2 linked regions of the Homo sapiens genome follow. The protein of the gene in region 2 purifies or fractionates together with the protein of the main gene of each other region. This does not show direct contact. Each region holds a gene or a part of one and is shown on either strand. Other genes may lie near its edges.

The links. The genes of interacting proteins can lie anywhere in the genome.
Region 1: the proteins of MTMR10 (region 2) and MTMR2 purify together in Homo sapiens (affinity purification with mass spectrometry; 5 studies listed by BioGRID and IntAct, with this or other methods). This does not show direct contact.

What each region holds. Positions count from the first base shown.
Region 1 is NC_000011.10:95,922,441-95,926,263, reverse strand, and holds the start of MTMR2 (phosphatidylinositol-3,5-bisphosphate 3-phosphatase MTMR2), read left to right. Parts: upstream 1-2,156; 5' UTR 2,157-2,309; coding exon 2,310-2,389; intron 2,390-2,404; exon of another isoform or gene 2,405-2,572; intron 2,573-3,823. UniProt on the Homo sapiens protein: Lipid phosphatase that specifically dephosphorylates the D-3 position of phosphatidylinositol 3-phosphate and phosphatidylinositol 3,5-bisphosphate, generating phosphatidylinositol and phosphatidylinositol 5-phosphate.
Region 2 is NC_000015.10:30,990,087-30,993,686, forward strand, and holds the start of MTMR10 (myotubularin-related protein 10), read right to left. Parts: upstream 1,543-3,600; 5' UTR 1,421-1,542; coding exon 1,361-1,420; intron 752-1,360; coding exon 691-751; intron 1-690.

The DNA.
Region 1 (3,823 bases), on a different chromosome or scaffold from region 2:
CTGTTAAATCTAATAAACAATTTGGCCTTGTATTTTGCAAACCTTTTTCTTTAATTTTCCTAGTGCAGTTATCCCTTAGTATCTGCAGGTTATTGGTTTCAGGACCCCCAAGGATAGTAAAAGCTAAAGATGCTCAAGTCTCTTAAATAAAATGGCATTAGTGTCTACATATAACCTATGCATACCCTCCTGTATACTTTAAATCAACTCTAGATTACTTATAATATCTAATACAATGTAAATGTTATGTAAATAGTTGTTATACTGTATTGTCTTCTATTTGTATTATTTTGTTTTTTACAATTTTTACAAATTTTTCAATCTGTGGTTGGTTGAATCTGAGGATATGGAACCAACTGTGATTAATTTTTCTTATATTTTAAAAAAGTTTTGGTTGGTGATGGTTTGAAAATTAAAAACAAAACACTGTTCCTTCTTGCAGATAGTTTGAGAAAAAACAGCCCAGATTATAAATTGAAAAATTAATAACTTTTGGTGAGGTCCCAAGTTAACCATGTTTTTTCATTTTCTTAGAGTTCATTAATTAATTAGAGTTCACTAATTAATTTCCAGCTGATATTCTTTGCTTGTGTTTTCACTCTGAGAAGTTACCATTTTACCAGTCAGGTTAGAAGTCAAGCAGTAAGTTCAGTGGAAAAACAAGTAATAATAAATCTACTTAGTGAGACCGTACTGTGCAACCGACTCTGCACAGAGAAAAACAACCTATTACGTAGATATTTTTATTCCCATTTTATTCCCATTTTAGAGATGTGAAACAACTTAACCACAGCACAGAGCAAGTGTAGAGACAGAACCGGGATTCCGATGAAGATCTGTCTGGTTCCAAAGTCTCTACACTTTTACTACACTGTTCTTTATTAATCACTAGATAGAACCATACACATATTGTTACATCAGGCAGAAGGTTTCGAGGGTTCTATTAACAAAGTGCTACGAATGAACTGGGTGGAAGAAAGTACATAGGTCTCCCATTCAAGGGTTCATCAGCCTTCACTAAGGAAATTTAAGTCAAAGTAGCTGACAGTGAGTCAGCATTTTGGAAGGCAGGTAGAGATGGTGAAGAAATAAGGAAATTCTTCTATGAGTCATGATAGATATTTAAGCTTGTTAAAAAATGTTTTTGACTACCTACTCCCTTTGCCTACAGAGTCCAGTTAAGGTATCTTAAAAATTATGGAAATAAAAACAATCGGTCGCTGTCTGTCCTCGCCAAACTCAAAAAAGGCTAAGCCTTTTGTGCTTAAACACATACTCATCAGTAACTATTCTACCTTACACTGAACATAACTAAGCTAGGTTGTTCTTCTTGGGAATGTACTTGCAAGTTAATACTGCACTGCAACTATAAGGTTTTTTAAAAGACATCAGTTGTACATTATAAATTAAATCTAGTTTAAATCAATATAATTCAATTTATCCTAGCAAGGAAGTTTTTTAAGGATGGTCTGATTTTTTTTTTACAGGAATAATCTTTGCATAATTTTACACCCCATACATGAGATGATTAGGATTCAATCTCAATCAGAAAAATCCCTTTATGGTGTCCTTATGGCTTTCCTGTATCCTAACAGAAAAATCCTAGCAGAAGCATTTCCCCTTTACCCAGTTCCTGTTCTCTTATCACAGTTCTATTCCTCCACACTCCCTTCCTGCTAGGCACGGGAATTTGAAAGGGCAGGGAAAAATCGGTGAAAGTTTGTCTTCTACTTGGGTAATCCAACACCACCGCATCCAGTAGTATATAATTCTTTTTGCATGTATATCAGATCCTCCCCAATCCCTCTCCCATACCTCTTTCTCACTTTTCTCTCATTATCCGGTCCTCTTGTTTTCCTTGACCCCCACATTCCTGTCTAAATCATCCTCCTGGCCTCAGGTCCTTATCGCCTTCCTGAGACCCTCATGTTTAGTGTTCCCTCATTCCTCTTACACCTAGGATTTCTCCTCCTTCCATAAGGGTCTGGTCCTTCATCCCTCCCGCTTCACCAGACCCCCTCACCCTGGGAGCCGCCACCTCCCTTTCCCCAAGACCAGATGTCGCGCGGCCGGACACAGCCAGCACGGAGAGTCGATGCCGGCGTCTGAGCTGCGCAGTGGGGTCTTCCCGCTGCCCAGCAGCCTACAGGCGCGGTGCACTCTGGGGGAACATGGCCGCTTCCGGTCTCCCTCCCGGGCCGGCGCTGGCCTGACTGCGGCCCCGGTCCGTAGCACTCCGCCCTCCGCTTCTCCCGCCCTGTAGCCGCGAAGACTGCTTCAGCCTTTCCCTGTGCTGCCCCTGCCGCGCGATGGAGAAGAGCTCGAGCTGCGAGAGTCTTGGCTCCCAGCCGGCGGCGGCTCGGCCGCCCAGCGTGGACTCCTTGTCCAGGTAACCAGGACGCCCAGGGCCCCGCCCAGCGTCCGAAGGGGATGGAGAGGGGCCGGGGACCTGCTGGATTGTTGCCCCAATTCGCGGATTCTGGTTTCTGAAGGCTACGCCGGAATTCCTTCCCCGGGACTTGGGAACCACTTCTGCCTCCCTCCCTGGGGCGTGGAGGCTGAGGAAAAGGAGGTTAAAACTCGCTGCTTCTTTATCGATTCCTCTACCTTTCATATTCCGATCTCGTTTTCTCCCCGATGGAGGTGGTCCCAGTTAATTACTTTCTCCTGTCTTTCATTCCCTCTCAAACCTTTTTTAAGACAGTTCCCCCCGCCCCCATTCTTTTCCCCACATTTCCTGTCTTTCTCTGTCACTTTTTCCAAAACCATCCTAAAGTCAGTCTTTCCTCCTCCACCCCTTCTTATGTCTTTGGTTTTTGGGTTCTTGCCCAGCCCTTTTCTCTCTTTTCATGGCTTCACCTTCTTAATTTCTTTCATGCTTTTCTCTACACTCTGATTTTCTTCTCGCCTCCCTTTTTGCTTAAATATGTAAATAAAAATGTCTCCTGTGCTTCTCTTTTCTAAATCTTCCAGCTGAAAGTCAGTATCAAGGAATCTGAGTGGTTTTTATCCCCAGTGATAGGTTTAAGAAAACAAAATGAGTGGTAGTTTTCTTCCTTCTTGGGCTACTGGTTCTCCACGTTGTCATTTCTCTTGTAACAGATGGGAATTTTATCCTGGAATTTTGAGGAGGACTTTATGCAGCTTTGCAGAGAGCTTTTATGAATATTAACTAGACGCGTTTTGGATGCAGTCTTTTTCTTTGATTTTAAAATAATGATTTAAAAATTTTTTAAAAAATAATATAAGACCTGTATTTGCTTTTTATGCAGCCACGATGAAATCTGGTTCTTTTCCACTGAATAATAGTCTAATTGTTATTAGAGAGTGATTCGATAACTGCTGTGTGAAAACACACAATTTTCATTTTCTCCTTCAATCAGTTGAAGTGGCTCTATTATAATTCATTTTGGATTCTGCTAAATATGGGTAGTTATTGCCTTTTTTCCTGTTGATGTTCAGCACCTCACTGGGGAACCACTGTCTGATCCCGTCATTCTACATTGCCATATGCACTCATAGCTCCCTGCACAGTCGTTTTTCAGAGTCTTTAATAAGCACACTATAATTGTTGGCTTAAAGTGCCTTTTCTACCAGGTTATAAGCTATTATACTTGAGGGCAATCTTAATCATCTTCATATCTCCAGCACTTAACATAGTCTCAGCATGTGATAGGTGCTCACTAAATGGTTTTTTTTTTTTCGAATTTGTAGCCTGAATTATCCAGGAAAGGAGGATTTTTCTTTGCAGTTTGATTATATATATTGCACGTTTGAATCAAGTATTTTTTGAATTCTGTATTTATTGCTTTGAAATTTGGAA
Region 2 (3,600 bases):
CTAAAGCAGTGATTCTCAACTGTGAGATTTTTGTCCCCCAGAGGTAGGGGACAAAAAAAAATTGGCAATGACTGGTGGCATTTTGGTGTGGCAACTAGGTCGCAACTAGGTGGTGGGGGATAAGGGTACTACTACTGGCATCTAGTGGGTGGAGGCCATCTTTGTTGCTATACACAGGACAGCCTGCCCGTCCAACTATGAATTATCTGGCCCCAAATGTCAATTAAGTGTCTCTGCTGGGAAAAGCCTGGTTCTAAACTGAAACAAGCAAATTTGCAAATACAGCTGACAACTTCAAAAAACAATTGCCAAGCAAGTAATTCAAAGTTCACTAAGCTCTGTTATTGGTATAGAGACACACACATAATAAAGGCGTCTTTTTATACTATCAAAATGCATTAAAATGATTAATCATTAATGCAATAAGTGGCAAACACGTCAGCAAAGAGTACTTTTACTACCCAAGCAATTAAACATATACATCTTTTCAAAAAGAAATTCGGGAGACAAAAAAGGAAATGAGGTAATGACATTCTTGACAGTTCCTTTTTCTCCTCTCAGTCACTAGACTTTTAACTGGAGAAAGTTTAATGAGAGAAGGGAAGTTAACCACATGATACTAGTCGGCAGAATAATCTTAAACCAAAATACGTTGCTAAAGTATCTGTTAGAATCCTAACTAATGTTTACCTGGCAAAAGGACTGGCTCCAGTTTTTTAATCTTCGGTTCCGAATTGATCTTATCGTCAGTCTGAAATACATTAGCAAAATAAATCAAAATCTCAATCCCCCCACCCTCCGTAAAATGCTACAGCAAATGTTGTTTTCTAAGTGATGACACATGCGAAAGACACACAGCCCCCCATTTAAATTCTTTCGCATATTAACTGAGCTGTTTTTAAGATCTGCTCATTATCGACTTGGAAGCCTAATAATAAAAAATGTTTAAACTGCCAGTGTCGCTTCCAGGTGTTCACATTTATGACAGACGGGTAACCGCCTCGACCAGTGACCCCAAGCGCTGCAATCATGCTGGCGGTCATACGAGGGAGGGTCGATGGGTTGGAAACTAAAGAAAACCCCAGCTCCCAAGGCTCCCCTGGGCCTCAACACTCCGCAAAACTACGGACGACAGAACTTCGGGCAGAGAATGGCTGCAGAAGAGTTTTACAAGTTTTCGCCGAGCCAGTGGGGGCTCCCGAGAAGGCGCATTTCGCGGCGCCGGGAATCAGGCAGCCGCGCTGCTGTGGGCAGGGAGACGCGCGCAGCCTCCTGGGGTCCTCCAGTTCCCGGGGGTCGGCCTGGAGGCTCCACGGAAGCGCAGAGGAGAGTCGGGCGCTCGCGGGGAGGGGTTGTTTACCTGGGGCGGTGGCAGGAGGTAGGACCTGAAGGTGGGTTTGGGCGGCTTGAGGGAGAACATGGTGCCGCCGCCTTTTCGCCCCGTTCCCGTCGCGGGCCAGTGGCAGCGCCGACGCCTCCGGGCGTAAAGCTCTCAGTGCGGCCGCCCAGGCCCTTTCTGCGGCCAGCCGAGCCGGGCGGACTGACGGGCGGGGATACGGCGCAGCGCCCGCCCGAGCGGGGAGGGGCCGGGCACAGCCAGGCCGACGCGGGCGCCGGGGCCCATCCCCGGAAGGGGCCCGGTGCCCCGCCCCGAGAGACGGCGCGCGCAAGGCCGCGGCCCGCCGCTCCCTGACCGTGTCCCGTGCTAGTGCCGGAACGCAGCGGTGGCGCCAGGTGCCCGCTGGCGGGCCCTCAGCCGGGGCGCCGCGGGGAGCGGAGCCCGACGGCCATCTCAAGAGCGCGGCCTCTGGAGGGTCCTTCTACGGCGGCCCGCAGGGGTCAGGCGGCCCGCGGGGGCCTACGGCGGCCTGCGGGGGCCACGGCGGCAGCGGTGGCTGCCTGGGACGGCGGCGCGGGGCGTCTTCTGGCCGGGCTGCAGTCCTGGGACAGTTCCCTTGACTTACACATGGGCCGACTTCGCCCTCCGGCCTGGGCGAGCATTGTTTTGAAGCTCTCAAGGAGGAGCTCAGGGCAGGGAAAGGTGACTCGGGTCCAGGGGTCAGGCGGTCACCCCGTCTGCGCCCAGGATGCGAGGAACCGGCACTGGGAAAGTGGGCCGGTGCCGCCAAGCACAGGTCACTTCTGAGCTCTTACGGTAATTCTGACTGGAGCAGATTTTGGTGGGAGGGGGCTAGTGGTGTTACATTTTGGTGAATCTATTACTTGAGACTAGGTCCTTCTTATACCTTGAAGAATCAAACCCCAATCCAGCATTTTATGATTAATGCCACAGGGAAGCTTCCATGCAGCCATACCAGTCACAATCACGCTGATGAGTGTTACTCACAGGAACATTTAACAATTTAAATAAAGATTCAAAAAGTTATTCTTTTTCTGAAAATAATTTATCCTGGATTTAGAACCCTACTGATCTTTCAGGTTAACCTGTTTGAATTCCACTCTGCCCAAGAACCGTAACCATAATTGTATTTTTTAGAGTCAGGGTCTCACACCATCACCTGGGCTGAAGTGCAGTGGCATGATCAGGGCTCACTGCTGCCTCCACCTCCTGGGCTCAAGTGATCCACGTGCCTTAGCCTCTCAAGTAGCCGGGACTATGGGCATGAGGCACCGTGCCTGGCCATAATTGTACTTTAAAATGTTAGTTCCATTGGATTAGAAGTGTTAAAATCACTGTCGTGCACACTTTTTAAAAAATTTTTATGAATATGCTGTTATTCCTCTATATTCAACGGATATTTTCTACAAATACTCTTTAAGCAATAATTGGCTTTTTCTTTACACTTAAATGACTCTGTGATTTGGGTTTTTCTGTACAGGTTTTCTTAGGATCTGCAATTCTAATATGTGACCATACAACTGAAAAGTGGAAAAACTCTATTTCCAGATTTATTATTGTCTTAACACTAAATTTTATGGCATTTCCCAGATATCTGGTTGTATTAGTCTGCTCAGGCTGCCATAACAAAATACCACAGGTTGATGGCTTAAAGAGCAGACATTAATTTCTCACAATTCTGGAGTATAGGAAGTCCAAGATCCAGGTGTTGGCAAGGTAGGGATCTGCCTAACTTGTGGCAGGCAGACAGGTGAGGGCTCTCTGCCGGATTTGCAGATGGCTGCCATCTCACCATGTCCTCACACAGTGCGGGGAGGGTATATAACATGCTCTCTGGGATCTCTTGATGTCTCTTCTTGTAAGGACGCTAATCCTATCAGATTAGAGCCCCACTCTTACTACCTTATTTAACTTTAATTACCTCCTAAAATCTCCAAATGTAGCCATACCAGGGGTTAGGGTTTCAACATTAGCATTTTGGAGGAACACAATTCAGTCCGTAGAACTAGTTTTATAACCTCTTCTCAGACCCTGATGCCCTTGACTACGCTGTATGTTTGGTGTTATTGCCTACCCCCTGCTTTTGGCTCTAATGTCACTGTTTTGTCCTGCTTCACCCATTTTTCTGTTTTTGTTTGTTGTTTGTTTTGTTTTGGTTTTTTTGAGGCGGAGTCTTGCTCTGTCACCCAGGCTGGACTGCAGTGGCGCAATCACGGCTCATTGCAACCTCCGCCTCCCGG